Linked DNA regions of Homo sapiens: regions 2, 3 and 4 are each reported to be linked to region 1. Evidence: microRNA targets listed by miRTarBase, many of them from high-throughput screens and not tested one by one. Region 1 holds a microRNA gene; each other region holds the end of a gene's coding sequence.
The links. The annotated mature microRNA hsa-miR-6715b-5p reads ACAGGCACGACUGGUUUGGCA and lies in region 1 at 1,185-1,205, shown strand. An mRNA with a match to its seed (bases 2 to 7 or 8) in the 3' UTR can be bound and repressed. Matches are read on the target gene's strand: a 7mer-m8 pairs with bases 2 to 8, a 7mer-A1 pairs with bases 2 to 7 and ends in A, and an 8mer does both.

Region 1 (3,116 bases):
TTGAATCCCTTTGCTCCATTCAGGATGAATATCCCTTATCCAAAATGCTTGGGACCAGAAGTGTTTCAGATTTCAGATTTTTTTTTGGATTTTGGAATCTTTGCATTATACTAGTTGAGCATCCCTAACTGGAAAACCTGGAATCTGAAATCTAAAATGCTACAATGAGCATTTCCTGTGAGCATGACCTTTGAGCATCATGTGGGTGCTCAAAAAGTTTCAGATTTGGGAGCATTCGGATTTTGGATTTTCACATTAGTGATGATCAACTGTGCAACCATGGCACCAGCCCACTGTCACCCTCCTTAACAGTAATTTCTCTTTCCCTTAGTGTCTAACATCTCTCTCCTTGCTAGACAGTAAATCCCTTGAGGACAGGGCCTGCTTGGGTCACATTTATTTCTGAAATCCTAGTGCCCTGCCAGGCCAGGCAGTGCTGGATACTCAGTAAAGGTTTTTTGACTTGCACATGACATTCTCATGACATCTCATTTTTCCTTCCTTCCTTCCTTCCTTCTTTCTTTTCTTTTCTTTTTTCTTTCTCTTTCTTTCTTTCTTTCTTTCTTTCTTTCTTTCTTTCTTTTCTTTCTTTCTTTCTTTCTTTCTTTCTTTCTTTCTTTCTTTCTTTCTTTATTTCTTTCTGTCTGTCTGTCTGTCTCTCTTTCTTTCTTCTTTTTCTTTCTTTCTTTTTTTTTTTTTTGAGACGGAGTTTCGCTCTTGTTGCCCAGGCTGGAGTACAATGGCGCGATCTCAGCTCACTGCAACCTCTGCCTCCCAGATTCAAGTGATTCTCCTGCCTTAGCCTCCCGAGTAGTTGGGATTACAGGCGTGCCCCACCAAGCCCAGGTAATTTTGTATTTTTAGTAGAGGTGGGGTTTCACCATGTTGGTCAGGCTGGTCTCAAACTCCTGACCTCAAGTGATCTGCCCACCTCGGCCTCCCAAAGTGCTGGGATTACAGGCGTGAGCCACCGAGCCCGGCCCCATGACATCTCATTTTCTATTATTATTGTTCACTGCATGCTCTGTTTGGAAGCTCAGCACTTCCTGATTCTTTGGGGGTATTTGAATTTAGGGTGCAGTTAGAACTTTCAGAGTAGATAACAAACCTCAACTCCTTCGTTTGGCTTGAGCTGTTCCCCACCCCTGGCTGGAAGACTCCAGGAGCAGGTGAAGGTTGTGCCCACAGGCACGACTGGTTTGGCAATTCAGTAAAAATGCTCAAACCGGCTGTGCCTGTGGACGCAGCCCAGCGTGAACTCAACCGTTTGGAAAACAGAGGAAAACAGAGACGCTTACTCCGCAGGGAGAGCTCCACGACCAGGACTCCCCCGGTCTGGTCTCGCAGGAGGCGCTTCCGTTTATCGCAGGTCTGAAGACCCAGAGAGGCAGACAGGAGAGAAGCGGGGAAGGTGGGATGATGCGTGAGCAAAGGGGAGAAAAGAGAAAGAAAAGATATTTTAAAAAGGTCACAAATGGGGTGGAGTCACAATTCCCCAGTCAACAGAGATGAGTTACCTTTTTAAAAAATAACCCAGAAGACACACTGTTCATCCCTTCTCCAACTTGAATACAAAGAGAAAGCTTTACTTTGTTAACTCTTCAAGCCAGAGGGAATCCTTCTGGAAGAGGTCATTGAGTGTGGAAGGGATTGATCCCATTTCCTTTGATAAGGCTTCTACTTACCACTCTCACCACAATAATTAGAGAAGTGGACACTTGCAATTGTATTCTGGTTCATTTTCTTTTCTTTCTTTTTAAAAATATGGCATTGATACTTATCCTTTGATCAACTGTACAGTGTCTCTCCCCTCCTCTCCCTGGCTCTGCACTCTCTGGTTTCTTTCCCTTTTGCTGTTTGTGCTCATAAAGAACCATTTTCTGGCCAAATGAAACAACAGCAATAGAGATTATGACCTTATTTTTGTTGGTTACTATAGGCTATGTGGATAGCAGCCTCTTTGGAAACACCGAGGTCTCCAGTTGAAAGAGACCAGAAAGGAGAACAGTTTGAGATTTGGCATGTCTAAGTGTCTAAGTGGTGGTTCTCAGGCTTGAGTGAGCACCGGCATGACTGCTGGCTTGTTAAAGCACAGCCTGCCCAGGCCTTCCTCTCACGTGGTCAAATCAGCCATGATCCAGTGTCGGGAATTTCTGCAGCATCTCTCTGAAGTCACAGAGGTGAACCCTCGGGCTGTTCAGTCAAGACTAAAAACACCCACCTTTTGAGTTATTTCCACGGCCTGTCCCTGCCACCTAGACCTTGAATTTCCCTTGCCCTTTTCACTTCTTCCAAGTATTTCCAAGTCTGTTATCACTTTCATTTACCTACACTGCCCTCTGATGAGGGAAGGGCCATCATTACTTAACACACTTTGCTTAAGGATGAGAAAGCAGGTCCCAGCAGGTTAGGCGACACATGCCAGACCATGTGGGTTGTTGGAGGCAGGGCAGATAGGGCCCTGAGCATCTGCCCTCACGAGCATCTGCCCTTATACTCAGTGCCATTTCCTCCAGATGTCCTCAGCACACAGCTGCCCTGGCCTGGTTATGATCTCCCCACTCAAACTCCAGCTCCTCCAATACTGGCACCCTTTAGGTAACATTGTCCTTCTGGAGAGAGGCAGCTCACCACTGGGCAGGAGAGTTTCTCACTGTCGCAGATGAACGTCTCACAGTGTAACCACACCTTGGAGAGTTTGGGGATGTTCTGGAACCGGAAAGCATTGAATTGGAAGGTTGCCCTGTGATCTCTCCCATTCTCATGCACGAGGACGGTTTCATCCGTGGGGCAGCTGAGGCAGATGGGGAAAGAAGAGTGAACTGTCATCTCCTTGAACTCCAGCAAGAGCTGCTGAGCGATTTACACACAAGGCTCCCGAGGTGGTTATATGACCTCTAACCTTCCCAGGCATTTTGATTAGCAGCACCTCACTTGATCTTCACAACTGTGAGGTCAAGTTGATGAGCTAGGAGATGGGTATTACTGTCCTCATTCTATAGACAAGGTACGATGGGAGGGGAGTGACTTATAAGAGTCACACTTTTAGTAAGTTACACCTGTGTCCCAAAGAAAGAAAATCCCTAGGAGATAAGGCCCTCCGAGGACTGGAATAT
Region 2 (3,000 bases), not on the chromosome of region 1:
ATTACAGGCATGAGCCACCAGGCCTGGCCACACACACACTCTGTTTTTACCTAACTCTTGACTTGTGCTTCCTCCAAAAGCCTTGGTCTTTTATATCTCTCAACCTGGCACATACTGTTTGCTCTGCCTGGAAGGCCCACCCCAATACACACTTTCCTACTCTTTATTAAAGTTCTAAGTATCATCTCCGTAAAGCCCTCTGGAACCCCAAGTCCCAAGGGCAAATTAAACGAGGGAAGGGTGAAAGAAAGAAGCAGGATGAAAAGGAACACAGGTAATCCTCTCTTTTTTATTTCTGGGCAGAAACCCCAATGATGGGAATCTGCCCTGCTGGCCACGCTACAACAAGGATGAAAAGTACCTGCAGCTGGATTTTACCACAAGAGTGGGCATGAAGCTCAAGGAGAAGAAGATGGCTTTTTGGATGAGTCTGTACCAGTCTCAAAGACCTGAGAAGCAGAGGCAATTCTAAGGGTGGCTATGCAGGAAGGAGCCAAAGAGGGGTTTGCCCCCACCATCCAGGCCCTGGGGAGACTAGCCATGGACATACCTGGGGACAAGAGTTCTACCCACCCCAGTTTAGAACTGCAGGAGCTCCCTGCTGCCTCCAGGCCAAAGCTAGAGCTTTTGCCTGTTGTGTGGGACCTGCACTGCCCTTTCCAGCCTGACATCCCATGATGCCCCTCTACTTCACTGTTGACATCCAGTTAGGCCAGGCCCTGTCAACACCACACTGTGCTCAGCTCTCCAGCCTCAGGACAACCTCTTTTTTTCCCTTCTTCAAATCCTCCCACCCTTCAATGTCTCCTTGTGACTCCTTCTTATGGGAGGTCGACCCAGACTGCCACTGCCCCTGTCACTGCACCCAGCTTGGCATTTACCATCCATCCTGCTCAACCTTGTGCCTGTCTGTTCACATTGGCCTGGAGGCCTAGGGCAGGTTGTGACATGGAGCAAACTTTTGGTAGTTTGGGATCTTCTCTCCCACCCACACTTATCTCCCCCAGGGCCACTCCAAAGTCTATACACAGGGGTGGTCTCTTCAATAAAGAAGTGTTGATTAGACCTGAATTTCTCCACCTATAAAATGGGTGTGTGAAGTGAATGATGTCTCAATTTGAGCCCTGAGAGAAAGGAAGTATTGCTGCCTGTTCCTTAGTGGGCTGTGCCTGGATGCTACACTCAGTCAAAGGGTGCTACTGCAAAGTTGCCTGGGGTACAAAACACTTGCCTTTTGCCTTCATGGTCTCAAGTGCACCCCTCAGGACAGCCACACCCCACGCTCACTTGTCCATCAGTTTAGGTCTTAGTGCCACATCTAGATTCCTCTGGCCTCTCCTGCAGCCCGTGTGTATCCCAGCCTGTCCCACAGTTTTGTTTCGTTGTTTTGTGGGGTTTTTTTTTTTTTTTTTGAGACGGAGTTTTGCTCTTGTCACCCAGGCTGGAGTGCAATGATGAAATCTCAGCTCACTGCAGCCTCAGTCTCCCGAGTTCAAGCGATTCTCCTGCCTCAGCCTCCCAAGTAGCTGAGATTACAGATGCCCACCACCATGCCCGGCTTATTTTTGTATTTTTAGTAGAGATAGGGTTTCATCATGTCAGCCAGGCTGGTCTCAAACTCCTGACCTCAGGTAATCCACCCGTCTCAGCCTGCTGAAGTGCTGGAATTACAGGCATGAGCCACCATGCCTGGCCACTGTGGGCTTTTTGGTGGTAAAATACACACGACAAATTTTACCATTTTAACTATTTTTGTTTTTTGTTTTGTTTTTTGTGGTTTTTTTTTTTTTTTTTTTTTTGAGATGGAGTCTCGCTCTGTCGCCCAGGCTGGAGTGCAGTGGCACGTTCTCGGCTCACTGTGATCTCTGCCTCCCGGGTTCACGCCATTCTCCTGCCTCAGCCTCTCGAATAGCTGGGACCACAGGTGCCCGCCACAACACCCAGCTAATGTTTTTTTTTTTGTACTTTTAGTAGACGGGGTTTCACCATGTTAGCGAGGACGGTCTCGATCTCCTGACCTCGTGATCCACCCACCTCGGCCTCCCAAAGTGCTGGGATTACAGGCGTGAGCTACCGCGCCCAGCCCATTTTAACTATTTTTAAATGTACAGTTCAATATCATTAAGTACATTCACATCATTGCACAACCATCACCACTATTCTGTCTTTAGAACTTTTTCATCATTTAAACTGAAACTCTGTACCCATTCAACAATGACTTGCTGTTACCCCCTCTTCCTAGCCCCCGGTAACCCCTATTCTGCTTTCTGTCTCTATGAACTTGACTCTTCCAGGTGCCTGATATAAGTACAGTAATGCAGTATTTGTCCTTTTGTGTCTGGCTTATTTCACTTCACATGATGTCTTCAAGTTTCATCCATGCTGTAGCATCTATCAGAATTTCCTTCCATTTTAAGGCTGGATAATATTCCATCGCAAGTATATAACACATTTTGTTTATCCATCCATCCAGTGATGGGCATTTGGGTTCTTTCCACCTTTAGGCTATTGTGAATAATGCTGCTATGAACACTGGCATAGTGTCCCACAGTATTTTTGTCCCAAACTAGTGTTGATTAGGCCCTTTATTCCCAGAGGTTCCTGAGTCTCTGGGGCAAATGGAAGCTGCACAGATCTGTGGGATGAGGCACATCTAATTCCCCATACCCCAGGATCTAACCCCCAAAGCAAAGGGATGGTGGAGGAGGGCGGAAGCCCCTCCCAAGCAAACATTAATCCTCACAACAACTGTGGATCTTATTATCCCCATTTTACAGATGAAGAAACTGAGGCATTGAGACATTAAAAAGCCTTGCCCAAGGGCCTGAGCTGGTGGAGGCAGAGCAGGAGTTGGATCCAGGCCTGTCTGAGGCATCCTGCCACCTCCATCCAGACCTGGAGCAATCCCTGAGAAGGGTGGCTACCACCAGAGATGTGGCAGCTCTGGTCTCAGGAAGCATAGCCGGAGGATGTCCCAGGCAACCAAACAGCCATTCATCA
Region 3 (3,116 bases), not on the chromosome of region 1:
TCTTAGTGCTTTCAAGTGGCTTTTAGATGGGCAGCCATGCAGCAGTGAGTTCCTTCCCATAGTGCATTGTTATAGCTTTTCCAAAGATGCTAACCCTGCTGAGGATGTTCGGCAAAGGGCTGGAGCTGTGTTAGGCATTTCTCTGGAGGCATGCAGTTCAGTTCACCTGGTAAGAAATGTGGCCCCAAACAAGGAAATGCTGTGCATCACGTTTCAGATTCCTGCCTCTGTCCTCTACAAGAACCAGACCAGAAATCCAGGTGAGCAGTTTCTGGGAAATTAAATGTAAACCTTGCCATTCAATTGTAACTAATTCCTCCCAGTTTTACAAATTTTAATGCAGTATTAGTTCAGTCTAATAGAAAGCTACTGTGTTAGTTCAGTCTAATAGAAGGCTATTTCATTAAAATAGTAAATCTGCAAGAATGTTATTTCATGTTTAAGTTGACTAGATTAAAAATGCCTATATTGTTTGTTTTTTTAAGAGTATTTTCAACTGTTAATATCTTACCTAAAATAGGTTTTCTGGATTTATTACAGAGAATCATGAAGATCCACCTCTTAAAAGGCAGAGGACGGCTGAAGCCTTTTCAGACGAAAAAACACAAATTGTTTCAAACACTTAATTGGAAATGTTTTCTCCATCTCCCTACCAGACTTACATGTAGTGAAATAGAATTTGTATTATTTAATAAAATTTTAGGGTTTGGTTTTTACTATTGAACCCTTGTACTTTGCCTTATTTTACAAATTGAGGATTACCAATTAAACTTTAACTGAACTAAGGCTACCAAATACATTCCCTGTTATCTAAATTATAACATACAATTATTTTATAACAAAATATATCTAATTTTTATTGGATAAATATGAATAAATATTTTCTCTCAGGGAAAATAATTTTTGAAAGTAGGGTGATTGAGTACTAACTAGGAAGGTATTAACACCACTTTGTAGTTGTCCTTTACGTAACTACTCCTTTACTGCCAATTAACTATCACCATAAAAGTAATAAAAAATGAAATTATTTAGAACGGGGCAGGCAAACTACATCCTGCAGGCCAAATCTGTCCCACCACCTGTTTTCATATGGCCTGTGGCCTAATAATGTTCTTACGTTTTCCATTGGTTGAAAAATAATCAAAAGAACATTTTGTGACGTGAAAATTTTATGACATCTATTATGTATCAGTTTTAAAAATTAGAATTGTATGAAATTAAGAGTTTCAGAGTTCATAAAGTTTGATTGGAACATACCATGCTCATTTGTTTACATATCATCTGCAGCTGTTTTTTGTTTTTAATATGGAACGCTTCACGAATTTGCATGTCATCCTTGCGCAGGGACCATTCTGATCTTCTCTGTACCATTCCAGTTTTTTAGTATATGTGCTGCTGAAGTGAGGACTGCAGCTGCTTTCTTGAACAATAGCAGAGTTGAGTGGTTGCAACACACACTGAATGTGACTGTCATCACTTCACACTGCTGTTTGACACATCACAAATCACTGATGTGGTTGTAACGACAGCATTTTGAGTGCCATGTATATCACATGAACCCACATTTTATTTTTTATTACCAGAGCATATCTATTATAGCAAAACAAGAAAAGTGGACTTTGTTGTTATTTTTAAAGTACAGTAGGGTGTGAATTATTTTGATGTTGAATTAGACGACAAAGCATCTATATAGCTAAGCTAAAAGAATAACCATTGACATTACCAGACAAACCACTCATCACAGTATTCCCAACTCACAGGCAAGCAACTGTTAGAAAAATTAGAAAATTTAAAATGGAAATAACAAAGCAGAATTTCTTCACAAAATGAAAATGAGGCTGCAACAACAGTAAGTCTCTAAGTCAATCATTTGTTAGCCAAGCAAAGCCATTTATTGATGGTGTGAATTAATTATGTTTGGATGCAGCAGCTGAATATATCCAGAGAAAATAAACTTAAGATTACTGGCCTTTGGCAAGAACAGTTGCTTAAAGAGTTAAGGACATTGAAAGCGACATAAATAGTCACTTTAAAAAGGAAATGATTCTGGATGGTTCTTTGACTCTATTTTTATTTTTACTTAGAGACAGGGTCTTGCTCTGTTGCCCAGGCTGGAGTGTAGAGACACAGTTACACCTCAATGTAACCTTGAACTCCTAGGCTTGAGATCTTCCCATCTCGGCTTCCCAATGTGTGAAGGTTACAGGTGTGAGCCCTTATATGTGGCCCTCGTGAATGGTTTAGCACTATCCCCTTGGTGGTGTCCTTAAGATAATGAGTTATGAGATCTTGTTGTTTCAAAGTATGTGGCACTCGCCCCCCACACTCTCTTGCTCCTGCCTTCGCCATGTGAAGTGCCTTCTCCTATTTTGCCTTCTACCATGAGTAAAAGCTTCCTGAGGCTTCCCCAGAAGCAGATGCCAGTGCTATGCTTCCTATAGCCTGGAGAACTGTGAGCCAATTATACCTCTTTTCTTATAAATTACCCAGTATCAAGTATTTCTTTATAGCAATGCAAGAATGGCCTAAAACACAAGGCAAAACAACTTTGATATGGTACAGTCATTTTGACAATCGATATTTGAATCACAATATTTGATGACAATATCCTTACACATTTGTCATACTATCAAAGAGAAAGAAACAAGATTTCCATTCCCACAAATTTTAGTGAGTATATTTTCTGAGTTCAGCATTTTTAGGGACCTAGGTGCAAGTGCAAAGGAAATTTCCCTGTTTCAAAATCTATTTAACTGCAATTGAGGTGATTCAACCTAATTTTCAGTAAGAAGTGATTAAAATAATGACATGCTAAAAGGCAAATTTCAAGGGAAGAAATGTAAAAGAATTTTACAAATGCTTTCCAAGTGATGAATATGCTCAGTTAATTTCATATGCTCCTGGATTGATAGCAGTATTTGGCAATACCTATCTGTATGAGAAGACATTTTTAAAGATGAAATGTGTAAAATCTTATTACCATTAGTATTAATGGTTAATGATGGTTAATGATAACCATTAATAGGCAATCATTTACAACTGATTTTGATCACAGGGAACACTTACTTAGAACCCTGATTAGAGGCAATGTTATTCTCACCAAAAAAGGCATTACA
Region 4 (3,116 bases), not on the chromosome of region 1:
AAGATCTGAACATCTAGTATGATTCCTTCATTGTACAGATGAGGAAACAAGACCAGAGGGGGAAAGCAACTTGGCCAGCATCATCTGGCAAATTGAGGCAGGCATAGGGCTAGACCCTGGCTTCCTAACTCCCAGTCCAATGTTCTTACAGCAGATGATGCTTCTATAATTTTGGTGGCAGGGGCAATGGGTACAGGGTACAACCAAGAGCCTCTTCGCTATTTTACTATTGAGATTGGGGTGCTGTGGAGGTGAGGGGGTACCAGTGGACCTTCCTTCCCTAGCAGTCTGGCTGGGCACTAGGAGTGGGGGATCTTCAGCAGGAGGGTGGGTGGTGTGGCTGGGGGTGGAGGAAGAACATGCCCTTATCTCTCTCCTCTCTCTGCAGGATGTTATGCTAAAAACTTCGGGCCCAAGGGCTTTGGTTTTGGGCAAGGAGCTGGGGCCTTGGTCCACTCTGAGTGAGGCCACCATCACCCACCACACCCTGCCCACTCCTGCGCTTTTCATCGCCATTCCATTCCCAGCAGCTTTGGAGACCTCCAGGATTATTTCTCTGTCAGCCCTGCCACATATCACTAATGACTTGAACTTGGGCATCTGGCTCCCTTTGGTTTGGGGGTCTGCCTGAGGTCCCACCCCACTAAAGGGCTCCCCAGGCCTGGGATCTGACACCATCACCAGTAGGAGACCTCAGTGTTTTGGGTCTAGGTGAGAGCAGGCCCCTCTCCCCACACCTCGCCCCACAGAGCTCTGTTCTTAGCCTCCTGTGCTGCGTGTCCATCATCAGCTGACCAAGACACCTGAGGACACATCTTGGCACCCAGAGGAGCAGCAGCAACAGGCTGGAGGGAGAGGGAAGCAAGACCAAGATGAGGAGGGGGGAAGGCTGGGTTTTTTGGATCTCAGAGATTCTCCTCTGTGGGAAAGAGGTTGAGCTTCCTGGTGTCCCTCAGAGTAAGCCTGAGGAGTCCCAGCTTAGGGAGTCACTATTGGAGGCAGAGAGGCATGCAGGCAGGGTCCTAGGAGCCCCTGCTTCTCCAGGCCTCTTGCCTTTGAGTCTTTGTGGAATGGATAGCCTCCCACTAGGACTGGGAGGAGAATAACCCAGGTCTTAAGGACCCCAAAGTCAGGATGTTGTTTGATCTTCTCAAACATCTAGTTCCCTGCTTGATGGGAGGATCCTAATGAAATACCTGAAACATATATTGGCATTTATCAATGGCTCAAATCTTCATTTATCTCTGGCCTTAACCCTGGCTCCTGAGGCTGCGGCCAGCAGAGCCCAGGCCAGGGCTCTGTTCTTGCCACACCTGCTTGATCCTCAGATGTGGAGGGAGGTAGGCACTGCCTCAGTCTTCATCCAAACACCTTTCCCTTTGCCCTGAGACCTCAGAATCTTCCCTTTAACCCAAGACCCTGCCTCTTCCACTCCACCCTTCTCCAGGGACCCTTAGATCACATCACTCCACCCCTGCCAGGCCCCAGGTTAGGAATAGTGGTGGGAGGAAGGGGAAAGGGCTGGGCCTCACCGCTCCCAGCAACTGAAAGGACAACACTATCTGGAGCCACCCACTGAAAGGGCTGCAGGCATGGGCTGTACCCAAGCTGATTTCTCATCTGGTCAATAAAGCTGTTTAGACCAGAACTCTGGTGTCCAATCCTGTGTCTGTGGAGCTGGGAGGGAACTCAATGGGAGCAATCAAATTAGCAGGGGCTTTGGGAGGCCGAGGCAGGCGGATCACCTGAGGTCAGGAGTTTGAGACCAGCCTGGCTAACATGGTGAAATTCTGACTCAACTAAAAATACAAAAAATGAGCCAGGCATGGTGGTGGGTGCCTGTAATCCCAGCTACTTGGGAGGCTGAGGCAGGAGAATCGCTTGAACCCGGGAGGCAGAGGTTGCAGTGAGCTGAGATCACACCATTGTACTCCAGCCTAGGCAACAAATGTGAAACTCTGTCTCAAAAAAAAAGCAGGCAGCCTGGTGGAAATGAATCAAAGTGGATTCGTTCCTGCTTTTTCTAAGGACCAATTACTTCTCAGTATCAATGCCAACTGAACCACACTGTCTGAAGTGACCCGACCAGCCAAACACCACTGGCTTGTCCTGTCTGGTCTCCACCCCCAAATCTGGGCCTGGGAATTGCATGGACTTTGGACTTGGAGGGGCTCAGCTAGGCCCCAAAACTGTGCTCAGAACTTCTCCCAGCTCGGAAAGCCCCAGCCTAAGAGGGAAACTCAACCAGAGGAACTTTCACGTCAAATCTAGAAAGCTCACTTCTACCTAGGAGGGGTGTGGTGGAGGGGCCTGGCTCAGCCTGCTGTGCTGTTAGGGCCCCCACAGCAAGTCCGTGGAAGGCCACATTTTTTTTTGGAAATAGGTTCATGTGAGGGGTTGCGGCATCCTTCATCTTAGGCATACCTGCCTGATGCGTTGGGGCTGTGCTGCTTTGCTTCAGCCCTTCTCGAAAATGTGCCCACACTAAGTTTTCAAAACAAAAGCAGATGCTTTAATAACAACAAGGCCTCGTGTACCTATTTCCCAGATGACCAGCTCCAACAGTGGCCTTGACAGAGGCCCCTCCTGGACTCTGAGAAAGGCACCTATGCATGCATAACACCCATCAATGGTGCAGAGCAATAGAAAAGTACAAGATGACCGGGAGAAGAGCTGGAGGAGTTCAGGGAATGCCAGCCCAGGGTGGGCTCTGGCTGGGAGTTCTGCAATCGGGGTCAAGGGCTCCATCTTGGTAACCCCTCTGGCTCCAGCACAGGGGGTGGCCCACGAAAGGTGCTCCGGACAAGTTTCCGCAGCCAGGAGGACGGCTGGTTCCACACACCCAGGTGGACCCTTCTGTCTGGGAGGGGCCTACAGGAGTGGCCCGGATGGGAGCCTTTGGGGCCCAAAGCTGGAGAGAGGCTGCCCTCTGCTGGCTGATCGGGAGGGCCTGTCGGCGACCGTCCTGTGCCTTGCACCACTAGCTGTCTTGCTCCCGGGCCACTGTTTTTCAGTGCAGCCCCACGGTGGGCAAGGGGCCCTGACGCACCTCCTGGGAATAAGACCTGGGTAAAGGCAGTAGGCTGTAAGCCAGCTGCGGCCAGGCCAGGAAGCAC

Region 2: the mRNA of CES4A is a reported target of hsa-miR-6715b-5p. Seed matches in the 3' UTR shown: 7mer-m8 at 902-908 and 7mer-m8 at 1,166-1,172.
Region 3: miRTarBase lists TRMT5 as a target of hsa-miR-6715b-5p. The part of its 3' UTR that is shown has no 7-base or 8-base seed match.
Region 4: the mRNA of CSRP1 is a reported target of hsa-miR-6715b-5p. Seed matches in the 3' UTR shown: 7mer-A1 at 625-631.

Annotation. Positions count from the first base shown.
Region 1 is chr10:112,297,747-112,300,862 of GRCh38, reverse strand. MIR6715B (microRNA 6715b) reads left to right here and starts at 1,175; the gene lies at 1,175-1,251. TECTB (tectorin beta) reads right to left here. Exons shown (of 11, transcript NM_058222.3): 8 at 2,632-2,794; 9 at 1,299-1,371. MIR6715A (microRNA 6715a) reads right to left here and starts at 1,251; the gene lies at 1,173-1,251.
Region 2 is chr16:67,008,671-67,011,670 of GRCh38, forward strand. CES4A (carboxylesterase 4A) reads left to right here. Exons shown (of 14, transcript NM_001364782.1): 14 at 304-1,747. The coding sequence ends at 472. Among named protein-coding and RNA genes, the nearest start is that of CBFB, 19 kb to the right of the region's middle.
Region 3 is chr14:60,972,619-60,975,734 of GRCh38, reverse strand. It overlaps TRMT5 (tRNA methyltransferase 5), which reads left to right. Exons shown (of 5, transcript NM_020810.3): 4 at 1-260; 5 at 541-3,116. The coding sequence ends at 626. It also overlaps the pseudogene RNU6-398P. Among named protein-coding and RNA genes, the nearest start is that of TRMT5, 6.9 kb to the left of the region's middle.
Region 4 is chr1:201,482,062-201,485,177 of GRCh38, reverse strand. It overlaps CSRP1 (cysteine and glycine rich protein 1), which reads left to right. Exons shown (of 6, transcript NM_004078.3): 6 at 389-1,648. The coding sequence ends at 465. Among named protein-coding and RNA genes, the nearest start is that of PHLDA3, 14 kb to the right of the region's middle. RefSeq lists an enhancer at 1,861-2,190.